2 separate regions of the Homo sapiens genome follow, and region 2 is linked to region 1. A link means that fine-mapping ties the variant in region 1 to the expression of a gene that starts in the linked region. Tissue or cell type: esophagus muscle. Region 1 holds a variant in brackets; the other region holds the start of a gene. All regions are shown on one strand. Distances are between the middles of the regions.

The links. PIP is the estimated chance that this variant, and not a neighbour inherited with it, causes the effect.
Region 2: it holds the start of PITPNA, and the variant in region 1 is fine-mapped to the expression of PITPNA in esophagus muscle (GTEx, PIP 0.93).

What each region holds. Positions count from the first base shown.
Region 1 is chr17:1,512,434-1,520,612 of GRCh38, forward strand. It overlaps INPP5K (inositol polyphosphate-5-phosphatase K), which reads right to left and starts at 4,179. Exons shown (of 12, transcript NM_016532.4): 1 at 4,023-4,179; 2 at 1,439-1,546; 3 at 1,020-1,128. The coding sequence starts at 4,066. PITPNA (phosphatidylinositol transfer protein alpha) reads right to left here. Exons shown (of 12, transcript NM_006224.4): 12 at 5,285-8,105. PITPNA-AS1 (PITPNA antisense RNA 1) reads left to right here and starts at 4,486. Exons shown (of 2, transcript NR_028514.1): 1 at 4,486-4,660; 2 at 5,285-5,663. RefSeq lists a silencer at 4,265-4,564. The variant T/A (reference allele first, on the strand shown) is at 3,678.
Region 2 is chr17:1,558,057-1,566,216 of GRCh38, forward strand. It overlaps PITPNA (phosphatidylinositol transfer protein alpha), which reads right to left and starts at 4,736. Exons shown (of 12, transcript NM_006224.4): 1 at 4,485-4,736; 2 at 473-503. The coding sequence starts at 4,504. RefSeq lists enhancers at 1,808-2,774, 3,689-3,788, 4,557-5,056 and silencers at 3,899-4,028, 4,509-4,558, 4,629-4,908.

The sequences.
Region 1 (8,179 bases):
TTCTTTCCTCCCCATTCTGCTCCCCCTCCAAAGGACACACAGCTCTTGCCTCAGTACCCCCAGGCAAACTAGGCTGACAGAATCCATTCTGAAGAACAAGAGTCATCCAGGAAGGGGAAAGAGGGAATTCTGGTATTTCTAAGCAGCTGTATACCAGGTGCTGTGAATGGGAGTGTGTTTCATTCCTCAGGTGTGCAGGGCAGAACCAAGGTGAAGGTGAAGATCTGGCAACCCAGGGCCTTCCTGTGGACTCTCCTACTGTCTAAAGACACCCCAGAGTATACTGGTCTCTCAGACTAAGAAAGCCGCCCAAAGTACCCACCACACCTGACTCCCCTCTCCTAACCTCTGGACCCCCAGAATCTGAAGTGCACGTCCCGTATGACCTGAGGATACCCTATGACACCAGCAGGCTAGCCACGCCTAAGATCTGTCAGTCTTAGAGTTCACCAGCATAGCAATAAGGTATTAGTAGTTAAGAACTTGGGTTATGAAGTTTGAGAGATCTGGATCCAAATCCCAGATAGCGCATGTGGCTTCTGAGCCATGGTTTTCTCTGTAAAATATCTCTATTTCAACAGACTTGTTAAGATTTTAAAATAACATATATACTATAAAGAGCTACTTATGATGTGTAACAACAAGTAAGCACTTGATAAATGACAGCCGTATGATTACACTCAGAGACTTCAGGATGGGCATTTGAGTAGAGACTGGTGGCTGGGGCAGCGGCCAGCACTGAGGTGATGACAAGCCCTGCTGCACCTCCCCTCAGAATCTTCCCAAGCTGAAACATATCCAGGTGTTAACCCAACCCCTGGAGACTCCAGCTCCCTCAGAAAGGCGAAGGCAGGCAGGGGCCCCGGGGTCCAGGTGGAAGGGAGGTTTAGCCCTTTAAACAAATGGGAAACAGCATGAAAGGCTGAGCAGGAGTAAGAGGAACACATCAGACCCAACAAGCAGGGGTCAGTGGAGATGTGAAAACACAGTTGTCAAGTGCCAATGAACTGGCAAGTTACCTTGATGAAGCTCAGAGGGGAAAGCACATCCATGAGGAAACTGCTCCACGAGTCATTAAAGGCAGCATCGGAAAGGAGGCTTATGATCCCAGAGTTCAATTCCTGCAAACTGACCATGCCAGCTCAGAGGCTTGGCCCCTGGCCTCCAGGCTACTTCCCCTGCCACAGATATTTGATACCATCTTCACGGACTTTCAAGGCCTGAGTTCTGATGGCCATGAGGTCTCCCTCCCCTGCCTGCTGATCTCCAGCCCCCTTTGCCGTTGCTGACCCGGGACCAGAGACATGGGACTGTCCCTGAAGCAGGCTGAAAGCTCCCAGCCTTCAGACTCCAGAGCGGAGGAGGGCAGGTCACAGTGCTTCCCACAGGGAAACCTGGGACTGGTCAGGGATGGGCGAAGGAGCCTGCAGATACCTACCCAATAACATATATGTCAAGATTGAGGTTCCGGTTGTTCAGCTGAAGCAGGTCACTGAGATCTAGAGGGGGCGCTGCCGAAGCCACGTTCCAAGTCACGACGTGTATGCTGCGGAAGGGATGCAGAGGGAAGTCATGGAGGAAGGAGGATAAGATAGTGCACGGGGTCGGCTGGGCGCAGAGGCTCACACGTTGTCATCACAGCACTTTGGGCGGCCGAGGTGGGCGGATCACCTGAGGTCGGGAGTTCGAGACAAGCCTGGCCAACATGGTGAAACCCCGTCTCTACTAAAAGTACAAAAATTAGCCCAGCATGGTGGCAGGCGCCTGTAATCCCAGCTACTCTGGAGGCTGAGGCAGGAGAATTGCTTGAACCCACGAGGCAGAGGTTGCAGTGAGCCGACATTGTGCCACTGCACTCCAGCCTGGGTGACAGAGTGAGACTCTGTCTCAAAAGAAAAAAAAAAAAGATAGTGCACGGGGTCTAGGCCTGCTTATGTCACTGCAATCTGCCACACTCATGATGGGAAATGTGGGTTTCTGTGCTGGTGGAGGGAATGGGGATACTGAACCATCAGCTGTCCGTCCTCACCTTTCTCTGCTGAAGCAAGAAATCCCCACCCCGGACTGGGTCCTCCATGCTGGCTCACAGCCACCCACACCCGGCAGCACTGGTGCTGCTGATATAGCAGAGTCGCCAAAGGGAGCCCAAGAATTTCAGGTCAGGCTAGCGAAGGGTTAGGGGGCTGAACTGCCAGGAATGTATTAATTCCATCAGCTCCTCCAGCCACCCACACCCCTCTGTCATCATCTATGGCTCAGTCGGCAACTTCTGATCCCTACTTCTCACCCCAAGTGTTCCTAAGACCACCAGGAAGATCCTAGGGATTCAGATTTCACCTTGTGATAGGCCTCAGCACTACAAGGGCAGAGGAATTTAAAAAATAAAAGAGATAACACCACCATATTCCCTTCCTCTCTCCTCCCTAGCAGATCCCTGGAGCAAGCCAATTTTGCCAAGCACTTCAGCGAGACTTTTTTTTTTTTTTTTTTTGAGACTGAGTCTCACTCTGTTGCCCAGGCTGGAGTGGACTGGGATGATCTCGGCTCATCGCAGCCTCCGCCTCCCAGGTTCCAGCAGTTCTCCTGCCTCAACCTCCCAAGTAGCTGGGATTACAGGTGTGTGCCACCACATCTGGCTAACTTTTGTATTTTTAGTAGAGACGGGGTTTCACCATGTTGGCCAGGCTGGTCCTGAACTCCTGATCTCTCAGGTGATCCGCCCGCCTCAGCCTCCCAAAGTGCTGGGATTACAGGCCTGAGCCACCGCGCCCGGCCAAGGAGTTTTTAAGTAACAGGTTTCTCGACATCTCTCTTAAGAGTCTATGCTCTATGTCTGCGTAGTATTCCGTGAAAAATAAAGAGTACTCTCTGGGGAAAAGTCATCAGTTGGATATTTTCCACCTCAGCTTACAAGTCTTAGGGAAGCAAGAAAACTAGATAAGGGGCCTCAATGACACTGGATCCAGTCAGAGGCTCAGGAAAGAGAGACCTACAGATGTCTTTAGTGGAACAGTCAGTCACAGCAGCTCTTCAAGAAGCCTCAGACTGTGCGGAGCACAGAGCGGGCAGGAGCTACAGACCCTGCAGAGACCAGGAACAGCCTAGCATGAGTCCTAGGCACACGATGAGGAGTACCTGCAGCAGCTGGAGATCTGGAATGGCAGAGGGTACAGGGGGATGGGAGAAAAGGGCAGTTAATGCCAAAACATCTCTCCTCCAACAGACCCCGTCCTTAGAGGTCGACGTTCTCAAAAGCACTTCAAGAAATTCTTGGCCAGTTTAAAGCAACTTCCTGTCCCTCCCTGTTAGCATAAACAACACTATACAGAAACCACCTTCCCAGGCACTCGGCCTGAGATTTTGAGCTTCATTTGTTTACGATCTCCCCCTGCTGTCCGACAGAGGCTTAAGGAACAAAGACCTTTTACTCAGAGACTTCTTTTCCCAGACTCACTCTAAGAGGATGGAGAGCAAAAGTCCGGATTTCTTGTTCCCACTCTCAAATCCGACGATTAGCAGCAAATCCAAGCATCGTGACTTAGACTAAGTGGGCGATTAGCGTTGTTCCCCGTGAAAGAGCAGGCAAGAGACCAGGCTAAGTCACTTCCCTAAAGGATCTTATCTCAATCTGATTTCGGATTCCCGGGGTTCACCATGGGATCAGGCAGACCTCCTGA[T/A]GTATGTGCTGATGAAAAGTAGGAAAAAGATTTCTAACCGAGAGCCGAAGGGTGACGGCCTCGTTATGTCTTTAACCTCAAACAACCCCACACGGCTGTCCTCTCCAGAAAGCAACCGGGACACCTGCTGCGCCCCAGTGGGAACGAGCTTGGCGGCCTCGGCTTAGAGGGGGCGCGAGGCTCGGGCCCAACACAGCCCACCTGACACAGGCGTGGGAGAAGGCGAGAGCGCCTCTGAACCAAAGGCAGTCATGGAGGTCTGGTGCCTTGTCCACCCCCAGCCCGCAGCCCAAGGGGCGCCGATCCCCCCGAGCAGGCCTGCCTCTGCCGCCAGGGTGCCCTCACCTGAGCCTCCTGCCTTTCGGCCCGCTCAGCTTCCGCGAGCTCATGGCCGCCGTCGTCCCCGCGCGGTGGTCCGGCAGGTTCGCGTCTCCCGGCCAGCGGGTCCCGGCCAGAGCAGCCCTGCGGGCGGCCGGTCTCACGCGCCTAGCTGTCGCGGACTGTTTTTCTTCCGGACTCCGACCGTCCGCCCCGGCTTCCGTCAGAGACGCGCCCTCCGCGCACCCCGGGATCTGGGTGGTGCGGTTCGCAGAAGGAGGCGGGACTCTCCCACGAGCGCAAAGCTGCGAGAGGCTGAGCGAAGACGGGTTCGCGGACGTAAGAGGGGCGTGTCGGGCCTGTCATCAGCGCACGCGCAACACTGCCCCAGACGACGCGAGGTGTGCGGCCGCCACTAGACCCGGCCCAGCCCGCGCCCGCCGTCCGCAGCTCCCAGCGTGCCCCGCGCCAGGGGCCGTCTTCCGGCGGAAGTTGTCTCTTCGCCGCCGCCGCAGCCTCTGCCCCACTCGTGAGGGATCCGAGGGCTCCGTCCTTGTGCTGTCTTCGCCCCGGCTCCCAGGGGTCAAACGAGGGTCGGGGGTGGGGACACGCAGCCTAGCCACTGTCCTGCCTGGGATCCGGTCTCCCCCGCCCCCCGGCTGCAGGTAATCTCCCCATTCCTGCTACTGCGGGAGCGCCTCCGTTCTCCACGCCCACTTTCAGGCTTCTACTCCAAACTTATTGGATTACCTATTGCATATGGGACGTTTGGGGATTCCTGGACTCCTACAGAATTAGCCGTCAATAAATGAAACGTAGGCCGGGGCGCGGTGGCTCAATGCCTGTAATCCCAGCACTTTGGGAGGCCGAGGCGGGCGGCTCACTTGAGGTCAGGAGTTTAAGACCAGCCTGGCCTTAACATGGTGAAACCCCGTCTCTGCTAAAAACACAAAAGCTAGCTGGGCTTGATAGCGCGCGCCTGTTAATCCCAGCTACTCGGGAGGCTGAGGCAGGAGAATCGCCTGAACCCGGGAGGTGGAGGTTGCAGTGAGCCGAGATTGCGCCACTGCACCCCAGCCTGCGCGACAGAGCGAGACTTCGTTTCAAAAAAAAAAAATAATAATAATAATTAGCCGAGATGGGGTTTCGCCATGTTGGTCAGGCTGGTCTCGAACTCCTGACCTCAGCTGATCCACCCGCCTCGGCCTCCCAGAGTGCTGCGATTTCAGGTGTGAGCCACCGCGCCCGGCCTAAAACTACTTTAAATAAATGTTTTGCTTGTTTGGTAGGGTGGATAAAGAGGAAGATGTGAAGAGGAGGCAGACAAAAGCAAAAGGACATCCTGTCAGTAGGAAACGGCCGAATTACAATTCAGATGTGCAATGTTTGCATAAGTAAACTGACACGGGACTATTATATGCAGAAATCCACGTGCAAAAATTTTCAGACACACCTTTGTACCTCTTCCTAATCCTGCCCTGGTAAAATGGCGGTTATCAGTGCAAGTTTGAGGATACATACAGCTGGAAAATGGACATCACCAAACTGGACTCCAGAAAGTTCTGTCTAGGATTTTATTAGACTGCTTTTTTTCTCAATATACCTGTATTGGAAGATTGAGACAAAAAGGCACAAACTCACATTAAATAAACAAGGTAATCTAATCAATTCTACAAAGTGTAGTTTGTAAAACAAGTAGCACTAGGAACCAACCAAAGTAAGTCAGGGAGTCCCAGCAGGGACTGTAAAAGAACTTGGGAAGCTATACACATGCCCACGATACTGACCCTGTCCCGGACCTCTCTGCATGAGAAGGCCAGAGCCCAGCACCCCTCCTACAGAGGCACTGCTGCTTCTGTTGGGGCTGTGACCCTGGAATTCTGATGGAAGCAGCTGGTCTGAAGGGGCATGGCACACACTCAGGTACTACCCCTGGAGCTGAACCTTTATCATAAGTCCCTCTGAGTGCTAGTCAGTTTGGAGGTGGGTGAGGAGGAAAGGGGGTACTTAAAAGAAGCCAACACTGTTGCCCAGCAGCAACACCATCCGTGGGGATGGAACAGACCAGGGACATCCTCCTTTATGTTTATGTGGGCTGCAATTCCAGATCCAGGCTGACCTCAGCTCATAATGGATGCTTTTCAACTGGGGCAACAGGTGGAGGTGGGAGGAGCCCTTGTTAGGGCTAAAGTGATATGTGTGGGTCTCAAGAGCCAAAGGAAGGAGACTAACAGCTGCTGACCCTCAGACCACATAGACAACTGTCTGCCTAGAATGTCAGTTTGTTTCTTTCAAGATAACCCGCATCTGGACTTCCCCTAGTTGATGAATGAAGGAACATCTTTAAGCACAAATATAATGAATAGCTAACACAGAGCTTATAGGAAAACACTGACATTTTTCTCCAGTAGGAATGCCTCTTCTCCAACTTTCCAAGTCAGATAAATGCTACCAGCAGTTGAGATGCTACCCAGATGCATTACTAAAGACCCCTCAAGGTGAGGAGACTTACACAGAGGAAGGTGTCTGTAACAAGACATCTGGTTCCAAAGGGACCTCAATGAAGGTCAGCGCTAACCATGCTGGGGGTCTGAGTCTGTCCACCCTTGCCCCAGGAGGGCCACAGGGAAGCATCCATCAGGATGTCACAGGTGCAATCCTGTGAGACACTCCCTTATTGCACTTAGAAATGAGTAAGGCAAACAAACTGACAAAAACAGGATACATTCTCCCACCCACTTCTTGCTTCCCGGACAAAGATTTGGTCTCCCATTAGCAGATGCACCCAGGCTAGTGTGGGCTGGGATCACGGCACACTTAGGCCAACGTGCTTCACAAGGTTTGGGGAATGTCAGGTGACACTACAGCTCTCTCTCATTCTCCCACTAAGAGGCAAACTCAGGCTCTGTCAAGTTGCAGGAAGCTATGAACACTGGGCAGCGTCTGTTCCCCTGGAGCCTGGACTTCCTCACCAGCCTACTTTGGTCGGGTTCTGTACTATGATCACTACTTGCTTTGGGTTTTCCAGGGCAGAACTCAACATGGGGGTAGGACGAGCTAAGTTCTTGATCCCCAAATTCCTTTCCGGCAACTGGAGACGAGGGAACATGTTCTGCTGGAAAAAGCTTTTTGCATGCTCATATTGTGCAGCATGAAAGATCAGGACTCTTGCTTCCTAACCAGCCTCAAAGACAGAGGACAGGGACCTAAGAAAGCACAGAGAAAAGAGGATTATTGCTGAGTGGCAGCACCAGCCCCAAAGGGAAGAGGAGGAGCAGGGACTTACAGAGCTCCTCGGGGTCAGACAGTTGGTATCTAGGGGGTGACTCAATTCTAGGGGCCACACTGGACAATTCCCTCCAAGTGGAGAGTTGACTGGGGCGATTTTGTAGACTGCAGAGAGATTCAGAGCGGGCAACAGGAGGGCCAAGAAGCCACAGGTGTTTCTAAGAGTAGTAACTAGAGATTCAGTGATTGGGACAGGGTTACTCGTATTTGTTAAATTTTCTTAAATAGAGACTGGCTGAGCCTTGGGTACCTCCATAGTGCTAGAGTGCCCTAACGATGGGTTACTGGGAGCAGAAGTCAGAGCTGCAAAACCACATTGCTATTTTGTGGAAGCGGTGCGGGGCAGGGAAACATTGTATCTTTAGCTCATCCCCGCTCCCCACAGGAGCACTCAAAATTGCGAAGATCTTCCCAGGAAGCAAAATACCTCAGTTTACCCCAAGGTTGAGAACAAATGAACTTAAATCATTTAAATCACCACATCACAAAAGGCAGCTATTTGAAAGACTGAAAATGTCACTTGGAAATAAAGGTTGGGGGAACACACAGAAATGGATCGGAACACAATGGAGAGAGACGGAGGCGCTGTAACTACAGCAACCTACACGCCACGTATCTCGGAGGAGCAGGCTCCTGCACACGCGGGCTCTGTGACACCAGACGGTCTATTTGTTCACAATACTGAAGGGCATCTAGAATTAGCTACAGTAAGGAATCGAAAGTTGCCTGAAGAATGGGCACAGAACGGCTGCGTCCGAAAATGGCCTGTCACTTGGGAGGGTGGAGCTGCTGGGTCTTCCTGTTGACCACTGTCTTGCAAAACTAGAAGAAAAATGAAAGTATTAAGGAAGCAAGAGGAGAAAACAGAAACACTGTAAATCGTCCTGAATGGATAA
Region 2 (8,160 bases), 46 kb after region 1:
CCCATCTCTACTAAAGATATAAAAATTAGCCGGGTGTGGTGGCACACACCTGTAATCCCGGCTACTTGGGAGGCTGAGGCAGGAGAATAGCTTGAACCCACGAGGCAGAGGTTGCAGTGAGCGGAGATCGCACCACTGCACTCCAGCCTGGGAAACTGAGCAAGACTCCGTCTCAAAAAAAAAAAAAAAAAAGGGTCCCCAGACATGCACAGCCCCAGCAGATAAAAGGGGCTGGTTTAATCTCTACTCATCCAGCATACCAACAGCTTGGGACAGGTTGCACACAGTTACCCAGATATACAAAGTAAGTGCCATTTTTCAACTGAAAGTGGCACCACGAAATTCACATTGAAATATTTATGTTAGAACAAATAAGAAAACTATATAAACAGGATAACCACTCAGAGCCCAGCTTAGCCAATGGTCACAAACAGTTACACACAACTATGGACCAGAAAGTAAAAGGACTTACCTCATCTACAGACACAGGCAGGATTACTCGACTATAAGAAAGGGAAAAGAGAGTATCAACTTTAGGCTGTGCAATCTGCTCAAGGCTCTTTAAAGCATCATCCTAAAACAGTCAGCAGCATTCTATTGTGTAAGACACTAAATTCAGTGACGAAAACCCCACAGAGAATGGCCCTTTGAGTGCTCTGAGGACAGGACCCTCTGTGCCCTAGAGGTGTAAGACACTAAACTCTGTGACAACACCCCCCCCCCGCCCCCCCCCCCAGAGAATGGCCCTCTTAGTGCTCTGAGGACAGGACCCTCTGTACCTTGAGGCATCCCAGTTAGAACCCTGTGATTCAGTCCAAACCTATCCTCCCGCCAGCTACTTCCCAGGCCTCCACCTCACATTCGGAACTGGACATATGGATGATAAACTTCACCCAAACTTGCCAATGAGTCGTCCCCCCAACAAGACTTGCCAGTGAGTCTAGTAAGACAGGTTAACACAGGAGGACCTATCATGGTGAGGATTCAGACCCAAACAAGAGGCCCTGGGGACTTAAATTTCTGTGGACCCAACCTCCCAACAACAGCCCTCCAGGGGAAGGGCCAGGAAGGGACCAAGCCCCTTGAAGCCTAAGAACACACACCGGGCATCTCTGCTCGGGGCTGGATATTACAATCCAAGCTGCTACCACAAAGCCACCAAGAGGGCATTCAACTTATGTCCTGACCTCCAGGAGCTGTCCAAAGGAATCCCAATTTATCATTTTCTTTTCTTCTTCTCCAACTCAATGACCACCAATTGCTGGAGATGCCACCAGCAACCTATTGGAGAAGCCGTGGCCGGCAAAGTCTCCGCCAGGGCCAGAACCCCACAGAGGTGCCAGGGCTAGCAGCACTTCTCCAGGTGCCGTGCATGTGAAATGCAGACCAAGAGCCACCCCCAGTTCAAAGCTGTGAGGCGGGAGAGCTAAGACAAAAACTCTTGGTTTTACCCATACAAGTCCAGCCAGTTTCCAAGCTTAGACGTTCGGTCCCCAGACCCTTGCTGGAGCCCTCTGGGTCCTTTTGTGTCTTGCATGTTTAGTGAAGCATTAGGGAAGCATGAGCTGCTGTGCCTTCCTTATGCAGCCGGCTCACCACTCAGGCTCCTTGCTCCAGGCTAGTAAACAGCTATTTTCTAGTTCCACAAAGGTCCCCCAGGAAGCAAGAAGGACACAGAGGGGTCTGAGGAAAACATCACCTCAAAGGCAAGACACCAAGCAGGAAAGTAGCAGGAAAAACAAAATGGGCTCCAAGTCTTTACTGCCTGCTAACAACTCCCTTCCTCCAGAGCAACTCAAACAACATAAATCCTCCAGTTTACTGAATGCTGCCAGTGAGCCTCCCCTCCCATTACAGAAAGCCAGTGGTGCAGAAAAATACTCCCAACTTGGAGGCCAGAATTTCTGCACCCTCAGAAGAAACTTCCTAGAAAACAATAAGCCTTTTATCTTCAAGAACAGCAGTCAAAATCACATCCAAGATTTTGCAGAAATCAAATTAAACAGAATCCTGTTAGAGGAAGTGTTGGAAAAATCAACAGGGGCAACCTGCAGACGCTGGGTGGGAACCAAGTCTCACCCCAAAAGAGAATGCCATGGGCCAATTCCTGACGGGATGCGCTGAGGCTGCTGACGTGACGGCTGCACACTCTGACACTGCCCCCTTGCTCCTTAGGAACAAAACCACTTCGGCAGCAATAGGGTACAATTCCAAAGGACAGGGCCACAGAGGAACTGCCGGGCTGGGCCTGGAGCGGCACTCACTCTAATGTGACCTTCACTCGCACCCTTTCCAGGGCTGCAACGCTGCGGCCACAGCCAGTGTCTCGGATGCCCTGATGCCCCTGCTCCTCCCCCGTCCCCCGCCCAGGGATGCACACACGGGGCACGAGTCGGGCAGGAAGGAAACGCAGATACCAGGCAGGCCCTGCATCTCCGGCACCTTGGACTTTTCCCTTGCAGGCTTCAAGGGGAGGAGAACAAAGACAGGGAAGGAGTGCCTCTCTTCAAACCTCACTCAGATCTCCTCTGAAGGTCCCTTCCTTTCCCTGCCTGACCTTCATTTCAAAACCACAGATTTCTACAGATTCTAGGGTTCATTTGGGAACAGGAAAAAGAATCAGAAGGATGGGAAAAGCCTGTCAGTCTGGACACTGAAGATTAAAATCTAAAGTGCACCACGTTCTCCTGTTGGCATCGTAAAGTTCTTCCTCCTCACCAGGAAAAGCTCCGAGCCCTGGCTGAATTAACATCAGACTGGATGTCAAGAAACAGAGGGGATGAGGCCTCAAAATAATGCTCTTCAGATGAGGTGTTTAGCTGGGATGACATGTGGGTCTCAGCTCCCTCTGTTACCCAAACTCCACTCTATGTCCTAAATGTCCTAAGCACCTCCAAGGAGCCAGCCTGGTGGGGATGGTCAAAGTGCGATCGCTGACAAAGTGGCAAGAGCTCTCTGCACACCTGCCTGGCTGCCTCACAAGTTGCTCTCTGTTTGACCATCTCCCACTCCTGGGGCTTCTGGCCCTCCCTCCAGGAAAGCAGTTTCACTGTAAATTCTGTGCACACACGCACACGCACACACACACACACACCCATCCTATCTCTCCTCTTTGGGGAGAAAAATGTCCTGTGATGCTTACTTGGAACCCTGAGCTTCAACGATGGCTCATCTTGTACTTGAAAGATTTAGCACACCAAACATCTCCACCTGTCCCCCAGTCCCCTGGATTTCAGGAGCAAACCCGTCATCCTGCAACTCCTTCCAGAAGTCACCAGTTTCCCACGCACCCCTCTTCACTACTCAAGAGCTCCCCACCCCTTCCACCATCTCTCCTCAGTTCACGGCTCCATGGACCCCTCAATTCCTCAAAGAATTTCCCCATCTCTTTGCACCAAGACTGAGAATCCCCTAGAAACAAGCTGGCCCTGCCCTGGTCTCCCCCATCTCCAACGGCAGGTATACTCATCCCAACATACTCTCTTTCCGGACCAGCCTCGACCCCGGTAACTTCCCGGCCTTCTCCACTTCGGACCCTACCCAACATTTTCTGGCCTCCTCGCCCAAGTCTCCCCACGTCCCAAGCAGTCATCCCAAGCTTGTTCCAAAAGCCTCCTCTTCCGCACCAGCTGCTTGGGCACCACGGTTACTCCGGCCCGCATCTCAGCCCCCTCTGCATGTCCTCAGACCCTTCACCTGTCTCCCCAGCCAGGCCCTGACTTCCTAGTCCTCCTCCTGTGTCCACTTACCACCACCCCTCACCCGATGCCTAAGGCGGCCACTCCTCCCCATCCCCATCCCAACTCCATCGCGGAGCCTCTGACCCATCCACCCGGCTCTCCGTGTGAACTGTTCGGCCCTCCACCTTTCCCCACCGCCGGGAGGCCCTGCCTGCCCCGGTGCGCCTCTTCCTCGGCCGCCGCGGGGCCTCTCAGCGCCGCCTGCAGTCCCGGCTGAGCCCGCGCCCTCGGCCCGCGCAGAGCGACCCCACAGCACTCCCAGCGCTCGGCGTCCCCTCGGCCTCCCCCAGTCCCGGGCCAGCTCTCCCTGCCCTGACCCCGTCTCGGGCCTGGCCTCGCCCTCGCTGTCCCCGGCCTCTCCTCGGGTCCACTTGGGCCTCCGAGGCCCCCGGGGCGCCTGAGGAGCCGTCCGCCCGGGTTGTCCCTCCGTGCCCGTGGGCCCCTCCATGCCCCGGCTGCCCGTCCATGCCCCGTGGGCCCCGGCTCAGATGCCGAACGCCCCGGCTGCCCCTCCACGCCCCGGCCGCCCCTCCACGCCCCGGCCGCCCCTCCGTGCCCCGTGGGCCCCGCCTCACGTGCCGCCCGCCCCGGATCCCCTCCATCCCCGCTGGGCCCGCCTCAGGCACCCTCCGTCCCTGCTGCCCCTCCGTCCATCCGGGCCCTGCGTCCCTCGCCGCGCCGTCGCCCCGGCGGCCGTCCCCACCCTCCCTCCTCCCCGCTTCCGCACGGCCGCCGGACACTCACTACTCCTTGAGCAGCACCATGTCGCTTCGCGGCTCGGTGGCTGCCCGCGGCCCGCCCGGCCTCCCGCCCGCTGCCCGCCGGCCGCTCTCCCCGTGGCCCGGCCCGGCCCGGCTGCCTGTGCGTCTTCGTCGTGCTCTGCTCCGTCCCCGCCGCCCTCGCCGCGGTCGCCGCGCCGGCTCCTGCCGCCCGGGCCTCGTCGCCTCTCGCGCCGCTGCCGACGCCGCCCGGAGCTCCGGTTCCGCAGCGCCGCGCGGGGGCGGGGCGTCTCTGCGGCAACCAGAGCGTCACACGCCGCGGTGCGCGCTGACGTCACGCGGGGCCGAGCCTTCCCAGGCCCGCCCTCCCGTCCTTAAGTGGGCCGCGGCGGCGCTGTCGGTTCCGAGGTGGGGCCCCGCGGCTGGGGCCAGACCCGGCAGAAGGCGGAGCAGACTAGGGTGTCCGTCACCGTCCTCGGTGTGAACCGCCACGGATGCACGCGGGTGCTGGCTGGGGGGCCTCCCCGGTTGAGGGAATTGAGACCCAGGAAAAGGTTGTTTCAAAAAATATTAATAGCCGCGCGCGGTGGCCCACGCCTGTAATCCTTGCACCTTGGGAGGCCGAGGCGGGCGGATCACCTGAGGTCAGGAGTTCGAGACCAGCCTGGCCAACATGATGAAACCCCGTCTCTACTAAAAATACAAAAATTAGCTGGGCGTGGAGGCACGCACCTGTAATCCCAGCTACACGGGAGGCTGAGGCGGGAGAATCGCTTGTACCGGGAGGCAGAGTTTGCAGTGAGCCGAGATCGCGATCGCGCCATTGCACTCCAGCCTGGGGGACAAGAGTGAAACTTCGTCTCAAAAAAAAAAAAAAGAAAAGAAAAGGGCTGTGAGGCCGGGCGCGGTGGCTCCTGGCAGTAATCCCAGGCACATCATGCCTGTAATGCAGCACTCAGGCGGGCGCATCACCTGAGGTCAGGAGTTCCAGACCAGATGGCGAAACCCCATCTCTACTAAAAGTACAAAAATTAGCCGGGCGTGGTGGTGGACGTGGTGGTGGTAGTCCCAGCTGCTCGGGAGGATGAGGCAGGAGAATCGCTTGAACCCTGGAGGCGGAGGTTGCAGTGAGCCGAGATCGCACCATTGCACTCCAGCTGGGGCGACAGAGCGAGACTCTGCATCAAAAAAAAAAAAAAAAAAAAGAATGAAAAGGGCTGTGAGAAATGAGACACAGGCTTAGCGGCATTACACGGAGGGGCACCTAATTGAGCGTCAGGGATGTAGTCAGGGAAGGCTTCCTGGAGGAAGAGATTCTCAGATCTGCAGAGGGCTTCGGAGAAGAGCATAGCAGGCAGAGTGAATGCAAAGGCTGGAGGCAAGAGGGAGAGCATGGTGCATTTGGAGAACTGACAAGTGAGTGGAACAGAACATTTCAGGGCTGAGCAGCTCAATAGGGGAGGGTTCCTGGTGAACGATGATAAGGTATTTGGAGTCCACCCTAAGGGCGGTGGGAGGGCATGTAAGGGCTCTGAGCAGTGACATGAGCGGGTGTCCTGGGCGAAGGCTCACTCTAGTGGTTGGGTGGACAGAGGGGATGGAATGCCAGAGCGTAGGCAGGGAGACCGGCGAGGAGGCTGCTGCAGATGTCCAGGTGCAGGTGGACTAGGACAGTGGGAGGGAAGAAAAGGAAGGGATGGATTCAGGAGCAACTCAGAAGGTAAACTCCGTGAGACTTGTTGACTCATTGGCTGAGAGGAGGAGAGAAAAGCAGCGAGGTCTCTGGCCTGGGAGCCGGGGTGGACGGTACTGTCTTCTCTGAGAACACAGGCAAGACAGGCTGGCATGGGGGCAGGTAATGACTCCAGTGCTGGACTCACACTCAGCGCAGGACGCTAGAGGGGCATCCAGGGGAGATGGGAGTGGGCTGCCTAAGACAGGGACTTGGGAAGGGAGGGTGGAGCAGCTGGCCGTGTTGCTATCAGGATGTGACTGGCGGCCCGCGACTGCCCTGAGCACTGTGCTCACTTATCAGATCCTAGAGTGGGGGCCAGGCTGAGTGCCTCACACCTGGATTCCCAGCACTTTGGGAGGCTGGGGCGGGCGAATCACTTGAGGCCAGGAGTTCAAGACCAGCCTGGCCAACATGGTAAAACCCCATCTCTACTAAAACAAAAATTAGCTCAGTGTGGTGGCATGTGCCTGTCGTCTCAGTTACTCGGGAGGCTGAGGTAGGAGAATCGCTTGAGCCCTGGAGGCAGAGGTTGCAGTGAGCCGAGATCATGCCACCGCACTCCAGCCTGGGCGACAGAGCAAGATTCTGTCTCAAAAAAACAAGCCGACCACTATTCACAATAGCAAAGACTTGGAACCAACCCAAATGCCCATCAATGACAGACTGGATAAAGAAAATGTGGCACAGCCGGGCGCGGTGGCTCACTCCTATAATCCTACCACTTTGGGAGGCTGAGGCGGGCGGATCATCAGGTCAAGAGATCAAGACCATCCTGGCTGAAATGGTGAAACCCTGTCTCTACTAAAAATACAAAAATTAGCTGGGTGTGGTGGCACGCGCCTGTAGTCCCAGCTACTCGGGAGGCTGAGGCAGGAGGATCACTTGAATGCAGGAGGATCACTTGAATTCAGGAGGCAGAGGTTGCAGCGAGCCAAGATCGTGTCACTGCGCTCCAGCCTGGCGAGAGTTAGACTCTGTCTCAAAAAAAAAAAAGTCTCAGATAATGTGGCACATATACACCATGGAATACTATGCAGCCATAAAAAAGGATGAGTTAATATCCTTTGTAAGGACATGGATGAATCTGGAAACCATCATTCTCAGCAAACTATAGCAAGGACAGAAAACCAAACACTGCATGTTCTCATTCATAGGTGGGAATTGAACAATGAGAATACTTAGACACAGGAAGGGGAACATCACACTCTGGGGCCTGTTGTGGGACGGGGGGAGGGGGAGGGATAGCATTAGGAGATATTCCTAATGTAAATGACTAGTTAATGGGTGCAGCACACCAACATGGCACATGTATACATATGTAACAAGCCTGCACGTTGTGCACATGTACCCTAGAACTTAAGTATAATAAGAAAATAAAATTAAATTTAAATTAAAATAAAAAAAAACAAGCCGACCTTGGACATCATGTCATCTCACCCCTCCAGGTTACAGTGCACATTCTAGAAATATGCACATTTCTTACAAATGCATAATGCCATTGTCATACTTAACAAAATTAATAATGATTTCCTGATGCTATCTCATCCCCAGTTCATATTCTAATTTCCCTGCTAATCTAAAAAATGCTATAGTTTCCTTTAGAGAAGTTCAGTATCCAGGCAAGGTCCATGTATTTTTTTTTTTCACACTTTATTTTGAGTTACGTTTTTTACATCTTTTTCAATAGCAAGTTTGCTGCAGATGTCCATACGGGTTAGACGCAGGGGTCACACCACTCTCCAGCTGTGCCACACTGTGAGCCAACAGCCCCACCCAGGACACAGACTTCCGCTGCCTTGGAGTCCCAGGCCTCCACTTCCTACCTCTGTGACCTTGTGCAAGTGACTTAACCTCTCTGTATCTCAGTTTCTTCACTTGGGAAATAGGGAACATGCCGGTACCTGCGTCATGGGGCTGCTGAGCCTCCTTGGATGAGGCAATGGACATGAAGCAGCTTTCTGCAGTG